Linked DNA regions of Homo sapiens. The protein of the gene in region 2 interacts with the protein of the main gene of each other region in a pairwise test. Each region holds a gene or a part of one and is shown on either strand. Other genes may lie near its edges.

Region 1 (7,036 bases), on a different chromosome or scaffold from region 2:
TTTTTGAGATGGGTCTTGTTTTATCATCCAGGCTGAAGAGCAGTGGTATGATCATAGCTCACTGCATCCTTGAACTCCTGGGCTCAAGCCATCCTCCTGCATGCCACTTCACCTGGCTTATTTTTCAAAAATTTTTTGTAGAGATGGGGTCTCACTATGTTGACCAGGCTGGTCTTGAATTCCTGGCCTCAAGTGATCCTCCTGCCTGGGCCTCCTAAAGTGCTGGGATTATAGGTATGAGCCACTGTACCTCATGAGACTTTCTAAATAATGTGTATTTCTACAAGTTATTTTTAACCTACCATCAGATGTATGTGTGTATATATATGATATTTACATAAAACATGTATGCGTAGTATATGTATACATTAAAAAAATTATGGCTGGATGCAGTGGCTCACACTTGTAATCCCAGCACTTTGGGAGGCCGAGGTGGGCGGATCACTTGAAGCCAGAGTTCGAGACCAGCCTGGCCAAAATGGTGAAACCCGGTCTCTACTAAAAATACAAAAACTAGCTAGGCAGTGTGGCATGCACCTGTAATGCCAGTTATTTGGGGGGCTGAGGCAGGAGAATTGCTTAAATCTGGGAGGGAGAGGTTGCAGTGAGTCGGGATCAGACCACTGCACTACTCCAGCTTGGGCAATAGAGCCAGACTTCGTCTCAAAAAAAAAAAAAAAAAATTTATGCTGTCATAAAAAACTAGGCCTTTCATTTCCCAACTCTGAGTAATGCCTGGCTCAGGGATAGTGGTCATGGGGCGGGTACCTACACTTTGCTTTTCCAAGCTAAGTCAAGAGCATTAAGGACAAAAGTTAATACAAAGAAAATATGAATTCAGGCAGGGGTCCAGTGAAAATGAAGCCTGGCAGCTTCCTCTGTGCAAGGCAACAAGAACAGAAACTATGGAGAAACTGTCCAGTGGAGGCACAAGAATATGAAGACATCAGCTCCATCCTGGCAGGGAATTTTTGCCTGTTTTTGTAGTATCTTCAATAAGTATTTGTGGTTTGAATGACTGGAATGAGAACAACAGGAGATCAAGATTCAGTTATTGATCATCTTAGTGTGAAAGGGTTGATGAGGAAGAAGGAACAATGAGTACTTTCTTTATACTGTTCTGTGTATTTAACCCATATAACCCATGGGTATATATTACTTTTTAATTTAAAAAGACTAATTTTTTTTTTTTTTTTTTTGAGACACAGTTTCACTCTGTTACCCAGGCTGGAGTGCAGTGGCACAATCTCGGCTCACCACAACCTCCACGCCCTGGGTTCAAGCAATTCTCAATTCTCGTGCCTCAGCCTCCCAAGTAGCTGGGTCTATAGGCATGTGCCACCATGCCTGGCTTATTTTTGTATTATTAGTAGAGATGGGGTTTTGCCATGCTGGTCTCAAACTCCTGACCTCAAGTGATTTACCGGCCTTGGCCTCCCAAAGTGCTGGGACTACAGGCATGAGCCACTGCACCTGGCCTAAAAAAGACTAATTTAGATGTCAATGTAGATTTTTCTGGTGGGAAAAAAATGAAGGGAACATATGTACTTTCTGTCTTTAACCTTCTCTGTGGATTCAAGTTTGGCAAGATGATGCAAAGATGAAAACTGATGGAAAGCAGATGATAATATTTAGGGCTAACTTATTTCTTAGGAGATCTGATAATCTACAGACATTTACATTCATGTAGGAAACTCACAGGAAGGAAGTGAATATGGCTAATGTCACGATGTGAAAACCGGACCAGAACTCTGAAACTTCCTGTAGCCTCTTCTTTTAGAAACTAAAGATCTTATGCTCAGGGCTTTCAGAATCATGGCTGCTGGTTCTACCCACTTAATAATGAGAGCAGGGCAAAAGTTAGCTGTAAGGGCATAACATGCCTTAAGATGACATCTACAGACTTGCCTCTTTTTAGGATAGGCTACCTACCAGCTCTGCTTAGACTCCTAAATGTAATCAGATTTCATAGCAAACCATTATCTAGGCTGGACGTGGTGGCTCACACCTGTAATCCTAGCACTTTGGGAGGCCGAGACAGGCGGATCACTTGTGGTCAGGAGTTCAAGACCATCCTGGCCAATATGATGAAACCCTGTCTCTACAAAAAAATACAAAAATTAGCCGGGCGTGGTGGCAAGTGCCTGTAATCCCAGCTACTTGGGAGGCTGAGGCAGGAGAATCGCTTGAAACCAGGAGGTGGAGGCTGTAGTGAGCCAAGATTGCACCACTGCACTCCAGCCTGGGCGACAGGGCAAGACTCCCTCTCAAAACAAACAAACAAAAAAACACATTATCCAGTCAAAACATCATTCCTAAAGAAGACCCAGGGTCTATATCTGGTATTGGGTCTACTACACAGACACTAGATCTAAAGATCAACCACTGAGATGGAGATTTCCACAAGGCAGGAATTTCACTCTACAGCAAACACCACATCGAGATGGTATTAATTATTTATATTCTAGGCATTAAGTTGGTTTTCATGAGGGCAGGCCTAGATACAGACTAAGTAATACTGCCGGAGCTTCCCCAAGGCCAAGAAATCAGGTTACATATTGCTCTTCAAAGTATGCCGCTCTTGATATCTACAGTACTCCAACTTTATCTTGTTGAACTTTTGCCAGTAGAAATGACAAAATCAGGAAAAAAAAGTAAAGGTTAAGGAGAAGGCAGCAAAGGTAAGCACTGAGTTACCTGCACTGGCTCCAGATACTGCTTTGGAAATGGCACTGCTGGAAATTGCTCTGTTTCGCTTCATGATATCTTCAAATTCGGCTTCACTCACTGTAGAGGGTGGAGGGCCCGAATCTCGGCTGTACAGAGAAAATACCATCCTTGATTGCTCACATCCCTTATTATTTTTACTGTACTCTACAACACTTTGGTAATTTTGGCATAACACAGAACAATGCTAGACATCTGTAGCATTCATAACACCTGCTCCCGCATTTAATTAAGCACCTTAAAAAGGGGTATAAAGGACATGGTACTACTTCCCAGGAGTCAATGCTATGATAACAGAATGTCTATAAGGGAAAGAACAAGGATTCAGTGCTCACTTTCTCAGGGAGAATAAAATGCTTAATACACTTATTTACCCTGGCTCAAATCTGAAAGGAACAATAGTCCTTACCTGCCATGGTGGTTATAGGGGGCAGAGGCCTTCATGTAAGTATCTGGTGGAGGCCCCACTGTAGCGTTTGGTGGGGGGAAGAAGGCTGGATTGAGGTGAAGGGCAGGTGGGATGGCCCCAGGGGGAGGTACAGCAAGATGAGGAGGTAATCGAGGAGGTGGGGGCATGAGATGCTGGTAGTGGATACCAGGAGGAGGAGGAGGGACCCCAAAGCTTGAGGAGAGAGGTGGTGGGGGTGGAATTGGTGGTGGGGGCAGACCCATCAGGGGAAGGGCCGAAGGAGGACGATTGAAGTAGGGCAGCACACTGGGGGGCTTATCCACACGAGCAGATGAGGGTACAAGGTTCTCAGAGGGTGTGGCCCGTCCATCAGCAGAATCACTAGAATCTCGGGAATGGGCCCGTGGAGGTATTCCTATGAAGCAAAACAGAACTGATGTTACTGCCCAGGCTTTACACAAACCCACAGGACCAGTTCATCCTTCAGAAGTTATCAGACACCCTACAAAGGAAGGTGACTAAAGAGGCTGAGAAGGTAAAATCATCTACTGCCTTTTTTTTGGCTTCAGAGGTCAGAAGCAACTCAGTGAAGACATTAAATCCAAAAAACAATATCGTCCTAAATCCTGTCAAAGAATGTTTTCCATCCATAACTCCAGAAGTGCTTCAGAACAGATTTAATTTATCCTTATATGTATCTTCTATTTTTAAATGTAGAAGGATCCTGATAGCCCACGAGAAAATGACAGTGTTCACTGATGTTCAGGTGAATTGCAGTTGACTTGAAACCCCACATCTCCTGAAGAGTTCAGGACCTCTCTCCTTAAACTAATACTAGTTAACCTCTTCCTGTTGCACACTTAAAATGTTCTCTTTGCCACAGGGTGTTGGCTAGGGAATTTAAGGGAAGAGAGGGAGTGGCAGGAACTGGATGGCACTTCTATTTACATACTAAAACTAGTAATCAGGGTGAGAAAGAGACACACATGAAGACTAGACAACTGGAGGTTAAGTGAAAGATAAGAAAAATTGGGAGATACGCCAATAAAAGATCCGCCCACAGCACAAGCAGATAGCACACAGCTGACAGTAAGGATGCTTAGCAAAAGCTTGCTACAAAACATGTCTCCAATCTGGGGAACTCCCGCTACATTTCAATGGCCAAAATCCTCTACCCTTCAGGGCAGCCTAACAGGAACACCATCACCACATGCTAGTATGGTGCTGTGCACAACAGGAGCTCAGAACATGTTTTAAACAGCTGGAAGCATGGATTCTGACATTGTCAAGTCACTTGGTTAAACTTGTTCCTTCTCTCCAGTTTAACAGTCTAAGCCTGTTTATTGTGGAATCCAATAGAAGAACAAGATCACATGGCTTTGGGGGGGTCTTGGAGATAGAAAGATGCCACTGGCAGCAAGTGTGGAGGAAAGAGTGCTCCTTAAACTAGAATATGATAGTTAATCCCAGCTCCTGAGTAAAGCCTAAGGTGGAATCAATTATGTTGACAACCACCTAGATTTCTCTTACAGAACAGTGCCAGTGCTGTCTTGTTCTTCAGGTCTCAAACACATGGCAACTGGCTCTTTCCTAGAGTTCTCTCAAACTGAAGAACAAAAAGGTATAAGGCAAGTGTCATCTGACAGTTAACCACTTTCCCAGCTACTACTGTTGTCACATCTGCAAAGGTTGTTTTGTATCTATGGCTACAAGTCCCAAAAGACGCAACATTTCTATGCAGAGGAAGTCCACCAGCTTTACTTAGTGAATTAACAGAGCCCAGGTCCATCAGCATGACAGAGCAGAAAAACAGCACTCAGTTACACAATCTTTTCAGCAAAAAAAAGTAACATGAAAAGTAGCTGAGTAGAAGTAGAACGTTACCCCCAATACAGTTGTAAAATTACATACCTAAGGAAAGTCAGGGGTGAATTACAGAAAGACTCCAAAACAGAGGGGACTTGAAAATACAACTTGTCAAGGAAGAAGAGTGTGTCCTTTCTAACATGGAACAACAAGAGTTCACACCAAATCTATCTAGGCTGTCAATCTAGTTAAAAGAACAGCTGTTCCTATGCAAGAGCAAAGTGGTCCTATTTCTACCTGGAGGATACACCCAATCAATACAAGGCACTATTTTGAGAGCTGGACCTAAGCAGTGACAGAACATCAGTGATGAAACTTTGCTGTTCCTCCCACTGTAGCAAAAGAAAATAAGGGTGGTTGGCTGTCTCAGGGAAGGTCTTGCAGGGTGGCTGCACTTTATGAGGTCAGGAAAATCCAAGGTCTAGTCCTCAGGTTTCTCAGGTTCAGAAACTTGCTTCAACTGGGGTGACTAGGCCCTAGGAGACTGATTCATGCTAACCAAACTCACAAGAGACTGATTCATAAACCATAACACCAATTTATTAATTTACAATGAGAAATGTAATTGCCAAGCAGACCAGAATACTTGTGTCGGCTGGTCAGCGAATTCTCTTCCTAGTAGGAGACCCTAATTGGGAAACCAAATTAGCATCAGAAAGTGGCTTAGTGAGTACAGTCAGAATAAAGAGAGTAAGATGGACATTGGGGAAACTGTCCTCAAACTAAGGTAGTTCTGAGGTAACTTTCTTTTTTCTTTTTTTTTTTTGAGACAGAGTCTCACTCTGTCACCCAGGCTGGAAGGCAGTGGTGCAATCTCAGGTCACTGCAACCTCCACCTCCTGGATTCAAGAGATTCACCTGCCTCAGACTCCCGAGTAGCTGAGATTATAAGCATGTGCCACCATAACTGGTTAAGTTTTGTATTTTTAGTAAAGACAGGGTTTTGCCATGTTGCCCAGGCTGGTCTCGAACTCCTGACCTCAGGTATCTGCCCGCCTCAGCCTTCCAAAGCACTGGGATTACAGGTGTGAGCCACCATGCCCAGCCCCTAACTTTTTTATTTTCCCTCCAAGATGGAGTCTTGCTCTGTTGCCCAGGCTGGAGTGCAGTGGTCTGATCTCAGCTCACAGCAACCTCCGTCTCCCGGGGTCAAGCAATTCTCCTGCCTCAGTCTCCCGTGTAGCTGGGATTACAGGCATGTGTCACCCACACCCGGCTAATTTTTGTATTCTTAGTAGAGATGGGGTTTCACCATGTTGGCCAGGCTGGTCTCAAACTCTTGACCTCGTGATCCACCCACCTCGGCCTCTCAAAGTGCTGGGATTATAGGCGTGAGCCACCGCGCCCGGCCTGTAACTTTCTTTACTAATGGGATATAACTGCCAAGCAGACTAAAACATTTGGTAATCAAAAGAGCACCCTCTCCCCTGGACAATGCTGGAGAAATATTGTTCAAGTCTTATTCTCCAACACTCCTCTTGGTTGATTCCTTACAGTATCCTTCCAATCAACGTTTATGAAAAGATTATAGGCACCTTTTAGTTACATTTTAGGGTGGCTGCTTCTTGATAATTTATAGAGAGGCATGTCTTAAAAATTAAGCCCATTCACCTAATGCCAAGTTTTAGACAGAAACACAGAATTTAGAGGTGATGGAACTTTAAACATCATGTCACTAGTCCAGATGGGGAAACAGGCCCTAAGTAGTAAAGTGACTTGGCCAAGGTCACACGAGTCAGTGGCAGAACCAAACTACAACCTGAACCTACTTGACTCCCAGCACAATGCTCTTTCTTCTATATAGACCTATTCTGAGGACTACTTGTCGACCATGACACCACTCACAACCACCATCACCCTCCCCCAAACTCACCCACACTGTAGGCTAAGCCTACACCATAGAAAACAAACCCACAAACACCCCCCCCTCATACAGATGGTCTCCACGTACCCCCTCTTGGGACTCGGACACACTCACGTTTCCGAGCCTGTGCCTCAAACTGTGACAGGTTCTGCCGGGTGGCCGGCCTCACG
Region 2 (7,036 bases):
TGGTCTCAATCTCTTGACCTCGTGATCCGCCCGCCTCGGCCTCCCAAAGTGCTAGGATTACAGGTGTGAGCCACCACCCCCGGCCTAGATTTTCTTTATGTTGTGGGACCCAGGAAACACATGCCTCATTATTACTAATTTGATTGGGGAGAAAAACCCTAACTTAATGTTTAAAATGTAACTACTTTCTAGGCTTCTTCTCCTTAATTGTTTTTAGTCTCCTTTATGGCTGCCTTTTCATACTCTTACAAACAGTGCCAGCTGTTCTCCATGTAGCAATCCCAGCCACCATGCAGCATATTGATTACCAGCTTGAGACTGCCCGGAGCCAGGTATACCGCTACACAGCCATCCTTGAGAAGGCAGCCAACGACCCACTCATGAGGGCTGAACTTCAGCCATATATGTTAAAAGAAGCGCTATATAATATACGACAATATGAGGTCTTCCTTCAGATCATTTTGGTGAGTTAAGTTCATAAGACCTGACCTTTTCTATATAATGCAATCTCTTTATATAAGGCCACATCAGGTAGAACCAGGTCACTAATTAAGGAGAAAACCTCAGTAACTGCTCGGTTTATATTGCTTTGGTAGAGTTAGGAATCAAAATAGAAACAGAAAAGTTGGGTTTTGATTTTAATGAAAATATTTTGGTAGAAGTTGAATTTGTATTTTTTCATTGGTACTTGATAATATGATTGTTAGCATGCTGTAGTTAAACAGTGGTGTATATGTAAGTAATACTATGTTTATTTTAGTTCAGAGCAAGTATGTAACATTGTTTGGCAGGTAGTTGCCTTTCAAATAATTTTTGTGTAATTATTTGTTCTCACTGTAACAACTGGTACAAAATATTTTTTTAAAGGTTTTTTGTAGGCCAGGCAGAGTGGCTCATGTCTGTAATCCTAGCACTTTGGGAGGCAAAGGTGGACAGATCGCTTGAGCCCAAGAGTTCAAAATCAGCCTGGCCAACATGGCAAAACCCCATCTCTACAAAAAGTACAAAACTTAGCCGGGCACAGTGACATGTGCCTGTATTCCCAGCTACTCAAGAGGCTGAGGTGGGAGGATCACTTGAGCCCAGGAGGCAGAGGTTGCAGTGAGCCAAGATCACACCACTGCACTCTGACAGAGGGAGACCCTGACCCTGACTCAAAAAAACGTTTGTTTTTTTTTTTGTTTTTTTTTTAAATATAGATTGGAGTCTTGCTATGTTGTCCAGGCTGGTCTTGAACATCTGGCCTCAAGCAATCCTCCTGCCTCAGCTTCCCAAAGTGCTGGGGTAACAGGCATAAGCCACCATACCTAGCCAGATAAGATTTTTATATCTGGTGTTTTTAGATCTAATGAACAAGCCAAACAGTATCCCTAGAGAGTTGAAAAATATGGTAAAGTGGTGGTTATAAACTTTTTAAAAAGTAGCAGTGACCTTTCTGTCAGATAGAAACTTACTCAGAATCTTACAAATATAAAACAGATATCTACATAAAGGGACTGGAGGACCTTTTCACTAAGGGATATCCCCTTGACACTCTAGGGTTGTAAGAAACACAGTCTGTTAATTACTGCATGATGGCAGGTTATGTTCCCACTTGTCACCGTTTACTTTTACACAACCTCTGTTTTCCAGTAACTATGAGATTCTCGGTTAGTGGAACTGTCTTTTGTATGAGTGAATGCTAATTTCTTGAGGGATAGAATAGGATGTATTCTGACCACCTCTTCTTTTTAACTTGCATTGTAATGACTTGGTCCTTCTATTGGATGCACTTGGTCTGTCCTCTCTCCTTACCTAGCTGTTCTGATGACATGACTTCATTCAAACTAGGGGTTGTCCTCACAACTAGCCTATCTAATTGTCTTCAGGAGGAAGGATCCTAGCTGGGAGGCTGAGGTTAGAGAACTGCTTGAGGCCAAGAATTCAAGACCAGCCTGGGCAACATTACAAGACCCTGTCTCTACAAAAAATAAAATTAGCCAAGCATGGTGGTACTAACCTGTAATCCCAGCTACTTGGGAGGCTAAGGTAGGAGAATTGCTTGAGCCCAGGAGCTTGAGGATACAGTAAGCTTTGGCTATGCCACTGCACTCCAGCTTGGGTAGCCAAGGAAGACCCCATCTCTAAAAAGAATAAATAAATAAATAATAATAAAAACCAAGTCACACTCTTGGGGTGGATATTTCCCTTTACATTACCTTGTGGCTATCAGCCTTATGTTAACTAGTCAGCTACTAAGGGGATTTTGTAATCAATTTATTTTGAAGTGCATGTGAGTCCACAGGAGTAGAACTTCACATTCACATTTGTCACCTGTATTCAGAGGTGATATTATAAGAAAGAACCTTGAGAAACTGTCACACAACTGTAAGGATGTTGCAGAAGATGTCATTCATTATATAGAATCTTCTCATAGCTTGCAATCATGAATCCACCAACTAAGTCTTAAATTCTCATTGGCGTTCTACTTCTCACAGCTGGAGAGGACAGTGAGTAAAATGTAGAAATGATGAGTGTGGTCTTTGCAACCAGACTACATGAATTCTAATCATGACTTTGCCACTTACTAAATCTGTGTCCGTAAGGAAGCTGCTTAACTTCCCTGTGCCTTGGTTTCCGTATCTGTAAAATGGGGTTATTCATAGTCTTCACCATGTAAATAAGGCGGCATAGTGCCTGGTGCAACGGCTCAATAAAGTGATGATGATGTTGTTTATGATTATCATCATCATCATTGTTAGGGCCTTAGCTGAACAGCTGTGATTTCATTTGTCTAGTGGAACAAGCTGAAGAGCTTTTATTTTTCCATACAGTATCTCATTTCCAAGCTCCTTGCTGCTCACGTTGTTGAGAAAGTTAATTTTCTTATCCAAGCACTCTTTATGGCTGTTTTGTACTGACTTTAGTCAGGATCAGGATGAGTTTTCTTAACTTTCTGATTCTCTGCTCAAACAGTCTTTTTTGTTTTGTTTTGTTTTGTTTTTAAACTATTCAGTCCTTCCCCATCAGTCTTAGTGACAATTAAGGTTGATTATTATGAAATGGATATTGGTTTAATCAGTATTATCTCTAGATTATAAACTGCATCAATTTAAAATTAGCCAAGATTTTTCCTATATTAAAATCTATGAATATTCGTTTTAAAGTCACATTATTTGAACTAATTAAAAATTTTAAAGTAGCAATTTTGATTTTTAAAAATTCTCTCATCAAAGTTTCAGTTTATGTGAACATTTTAAAAATCCAATATAGGCCGAGCGTGGTGGCTCACGCCTATAATCCCAGCACTTTGGGAGGCTGAGGCAGGCAGATCACCTGAGGTCAGAAGTTCGAGACCAGCCTGGCCAACATGGTGAAACCCCGTCTCTACTAAAAATACAAAAATTAGCCGGGCATAGTGGTGGGTGCCTGTAATCCCAGCTATTCAGGAGACTGAGGCAGGAGAATCGCTTGAACCCAGGAGACAGAGGTTGCAGTGAGCTGAGATCGTGCCACTGCATTCCAGCCTGGGCGACAGAGTGAGACACTGTCTCAAAAAGAAAAAAAAAATCCAATATATAGCCTGGGTAAGATAGTGAATTATTTTGTTTTAATCAGGCCTTTATCTTCTGCAGTGAACACATTGAAATATTCTAGAAAAGAAAAGGGAGTGATGATCGTAGTTTTGTTGACTCTTAACTGAGAGAATAAAATTCCATCTTCCATGGGCTTTTAAAGTGCAAGGCAGACACCAAAGAGGGAAAGCTGCATGTTATTGTGCAAGTAAGAGCTGCGTTTGACAGCACATTTGTTAAAACCTGTAAGTCAAGATTTTTGTAGAGTTATTTCCCCCCAAGCTATTTTTGCAGGGCCCATTCACAGACACACAACACAGGGCTTCTTGATTTTTCTTGATAAGGCAAGTAAAAAAATCAGTTAGGTGGAATTTGTGCTTGTTTTATTATATTTTATTTCTGTTGTAATAAGAACATTAAACATCAGAGATTCCATTCTAATTTCTGCTTCTATAAGTTTGACTAGACTTGTTGAAAATTGTCCGTGGAAGAAAGTATGAGGAACTTATAAAAAGTGTTTAAAAGGTAGGGGGAAGGGGAAGAAGACAAAGAAACATGCTGGGATCACATGCTTTTGCCAAACATTTGAATGTTATGATAAAATTTTTTTAAGTGATAGCATTTTTAGAGGACTAATATTATAATTAAAAACTCTAGATGGGCCGGGCGTGGTGGCTCACACCTGTAATCCCAGCACTTTGGGAGGCCGAGGCAGGCGGATCACCTGAGGTCAGGAGTTCAAGACCAGCCTGGCTAACATGGTGAAACCCCATTTCTACTAAAAGTACAAAAAATTAGCCAGGCATGGTGGTGCGAGCCTGTAATCCCAGCTACTCGAGAGGCTGAGGCAGGAGAATTTCTTGAATCCGGGAGGCAGAGGTTGCAATGAGCCAAGATCACACCATTGCACTCCAGCTTGGACAACGAGAGCGAAACTCCATCTCGAAAAAAAAAAAAAAAAAAGGCCGGGTGCGGTGGCTCACGCCTGTAATCCCAGCACTTTGGGAGGCCGAGGCAGGTTGATCATGAGGTCAGGAGTTCAAGACCAGCCTGACCAAGATGGTGAAACCCCGTCTCTACTAAAAATACAAAAAATTAGCCCGGTGCAGTGGCAGGCACCTGTAATCCCAGCTACTTGGGAGGCTGAGGCAGGAGAATCGCTTGAACGCGGAGGGTGGAGGCTGCAGTGAGCTGAGATTGCACCACTGCACTCTAGCCTGGGCCACAGAGTGAGACTCTGTCTCAAAAAAAAAAAAACAAAACAAACAAAAAAACAACTCCAGATGATTGTGAATAAATTCTTTTTAGTAAAATGTAAGTAGAGTAATTTCTAGGACATTATTAGAAAAAAAGCAAGAAGCTCTGTGTGCCTACTCTGAATGGATCCTGCAACTACAGCTTGGGGGAGGGGTCTAGAGTATTTTTTTTCTTTTTCAGACAGGGTCTCGCTCTGTCACCCAGGCTGGAGTGCGGTGGTGCAATCTCGGTTTACCTCTGTCTCCAGGGTTCAAGCGATTCTTCTACCTCAGCCTTCTTGGTAGCTGGGACTACAGACACGCGCCACCACGCCTGGCTAATTTTTTTGTATTTTTAGTAGAGACGGGGTTTCACCATCTTGGCCAGCCTGGTCTCGAACTCCTGGCCTCAAGTGATCCACCTGCCTCAGCCTCCCAAAGTGCTGGGATTACAGGCGTGAGCCACTGCGCCCAGCCTTAGAATATTTTTTTATTTTTATTTTTTTATTTTTCTTTTTTTTTTTTGAGACGGAGTCTCGCTCTGTCGCCCAGGCTGGGGTGCAGTGGCGTGATCTCCGCTCACTGCAAGCTCCGCCTCCCGGGTTCACGCCATTCTCCTGCCTCAGCCTCTCGAGTAGCTGGGACTACAGGCGCCCGCCACCACGTCCGGCTAATTTTTTGTACTCTTAGTAGAGATGGGGTTTCACCGTGTTAGCTAGGAAGGTCTCTTATCTCTTGACCTCGTGATCCACCCGCCTCCGCCTCCCAAAGTGCTGGGATTACAGGCGTGAGCCACCGCGCCCGGCCCAGCCTTAGGATATTTTTAATTGTAGGTTTTAATAAGTATTGCATGTCGAATGCAACTTTTATTTTGGAGAACGTATGCAAATGTATTCCTGTTTCTTGTTGCTGTTGCATAAATCTTAAAAGACTTTAAAGACTGCATTTTCGTATTGATTCCTAAAACAAAACTTAACAAGCAAGGGGGAAAAAACTCTATGAGGGTAGACAAGAGACCTATTTGATATAATAGATAATAGTGTATGGAGGAATAAAGCAGGAGGAGGAGTAAAGCTTAAACAGCAGTATGGGTAAAATTAAACAGGATACACGTTACATTTATGAATAAAAATTTGTTAGTTGTAATACAATGATAATAGTTGATAGTACTCATGAAGTAATTATTTTTGTCATTTAAAAGAGTCTAGAAAGCATATAATTAGGCTACATACAGATGTCTGAGAATTCAGATGCACCTTTTTCTCTTCAAATAGATGTCATTCTTTTATGCTATACTGATAAACCCACACCACAACCATTTCTGGTGACATCTTGGGCAACACAGTATAATGGTTAAGAGCTGGGCTGTGGGCTCAGATGGTTTGGGATCCACCAAGATTGCTACCCCTTATTAGCTGCATATACTTAGACAATTTACTTACCTTACTATTCTTTGATTTTCTCATTTGTACTTATCCCTTTTTGTATTTGTAAGTATTTAATGTGGTGCTTAGCACATAGTAAGAATAAATATAATTATTTTTTTTTATTTTTTTGGGACAGAGTCTCGCTCTGTTGCCCAAGCTGGAGTGCAGTGGCTCGATCTTGGCTCACTGCAACCTCCGCCTCCCGAGTTCAAGTGATTCTCCTGCCTCAGCCTCCCGAGTAGCTGGGACATAGGCAGGTGCCACCACGCCCAGCTAATTTTTTTATTTTTAGTGGAGATGGGGTTTCACCGTGTTAGCCAGGATGGTCTCGATCTCCTGACCTCATGATCCGCCTACCTCAGCCTCCCAAAGTGCTGGGATTACAGGCGTGAGCCACCGTGCCTGGCCAAATATAATTATTTCAAATTCAGTGTTTAGCAACTTATTTTCAGACCATGATTGTTGTATCAAATATATTGTTTTTCTTTCAATGCTCTGACTTTTAAGATTTTCTGCATTCTTCAATGCGACTTTTTTCTGTTTAATTTTTCATACTTTATTCCTTGTATCAATAGATTAAGAAAGTTAAAGTTTCCCAAGTGTTGATTTATAATGTTTGTGTCATACAAAAAGTTCAGTTTCACAAAGAGTAACATTCAGTGATCTATTTAAATGTAATTTTAATCCTTATTTTAAGGTAAGGGCTTTACAATAAGCTAAATACACACAAACCTGTATATCCTGAACTGCAAAAGCAGATTCCATAGCCATATATGTTTTAATCAAGTACACATTTCCACAGTGAACAAGTACTTAGAAA

What was found. The genes of interacting proteins can lie anywhere in the genome.
Region 1: the proteins of CFAP206 (region 2) and CPSF7 interact in binary tests that used the Homo sapiens proteins (3 or more experiments, as listed by UniProt).

The regions. Positions count from the first base shown.
Region 1 is NC_000011.10:61,412,969-61,420,004, forward strand, and holds part of CPSF7 (cleavage and polyadenylation specificity factor subunit 7), read right to left. Parts: coding exon 6,981-7,036; coding exon of another isoform or gene 6,954-6,980; intron 3,552-6,953; coding exon 3,137-3,551; intron 2,817-3,136; coding exon 2,698-2,816; intron 1-2,697.
Region 2 is NC_000006.12:87,417,953-87,424,988, forward strand, and holds part of CFAP206 (cilia- and flagella-associated protein 206), read left to right. Parts: intron 1-255; coding exon 256-464; intron 465-7,036. UniProt on the Homo sapiens protein: Essential for sperm motility and is involved in the regulation of the beating frequency of motile cilia on the epithelial cells of the respiratory tract. Required for the establishment of radial spokes in sperm flagella.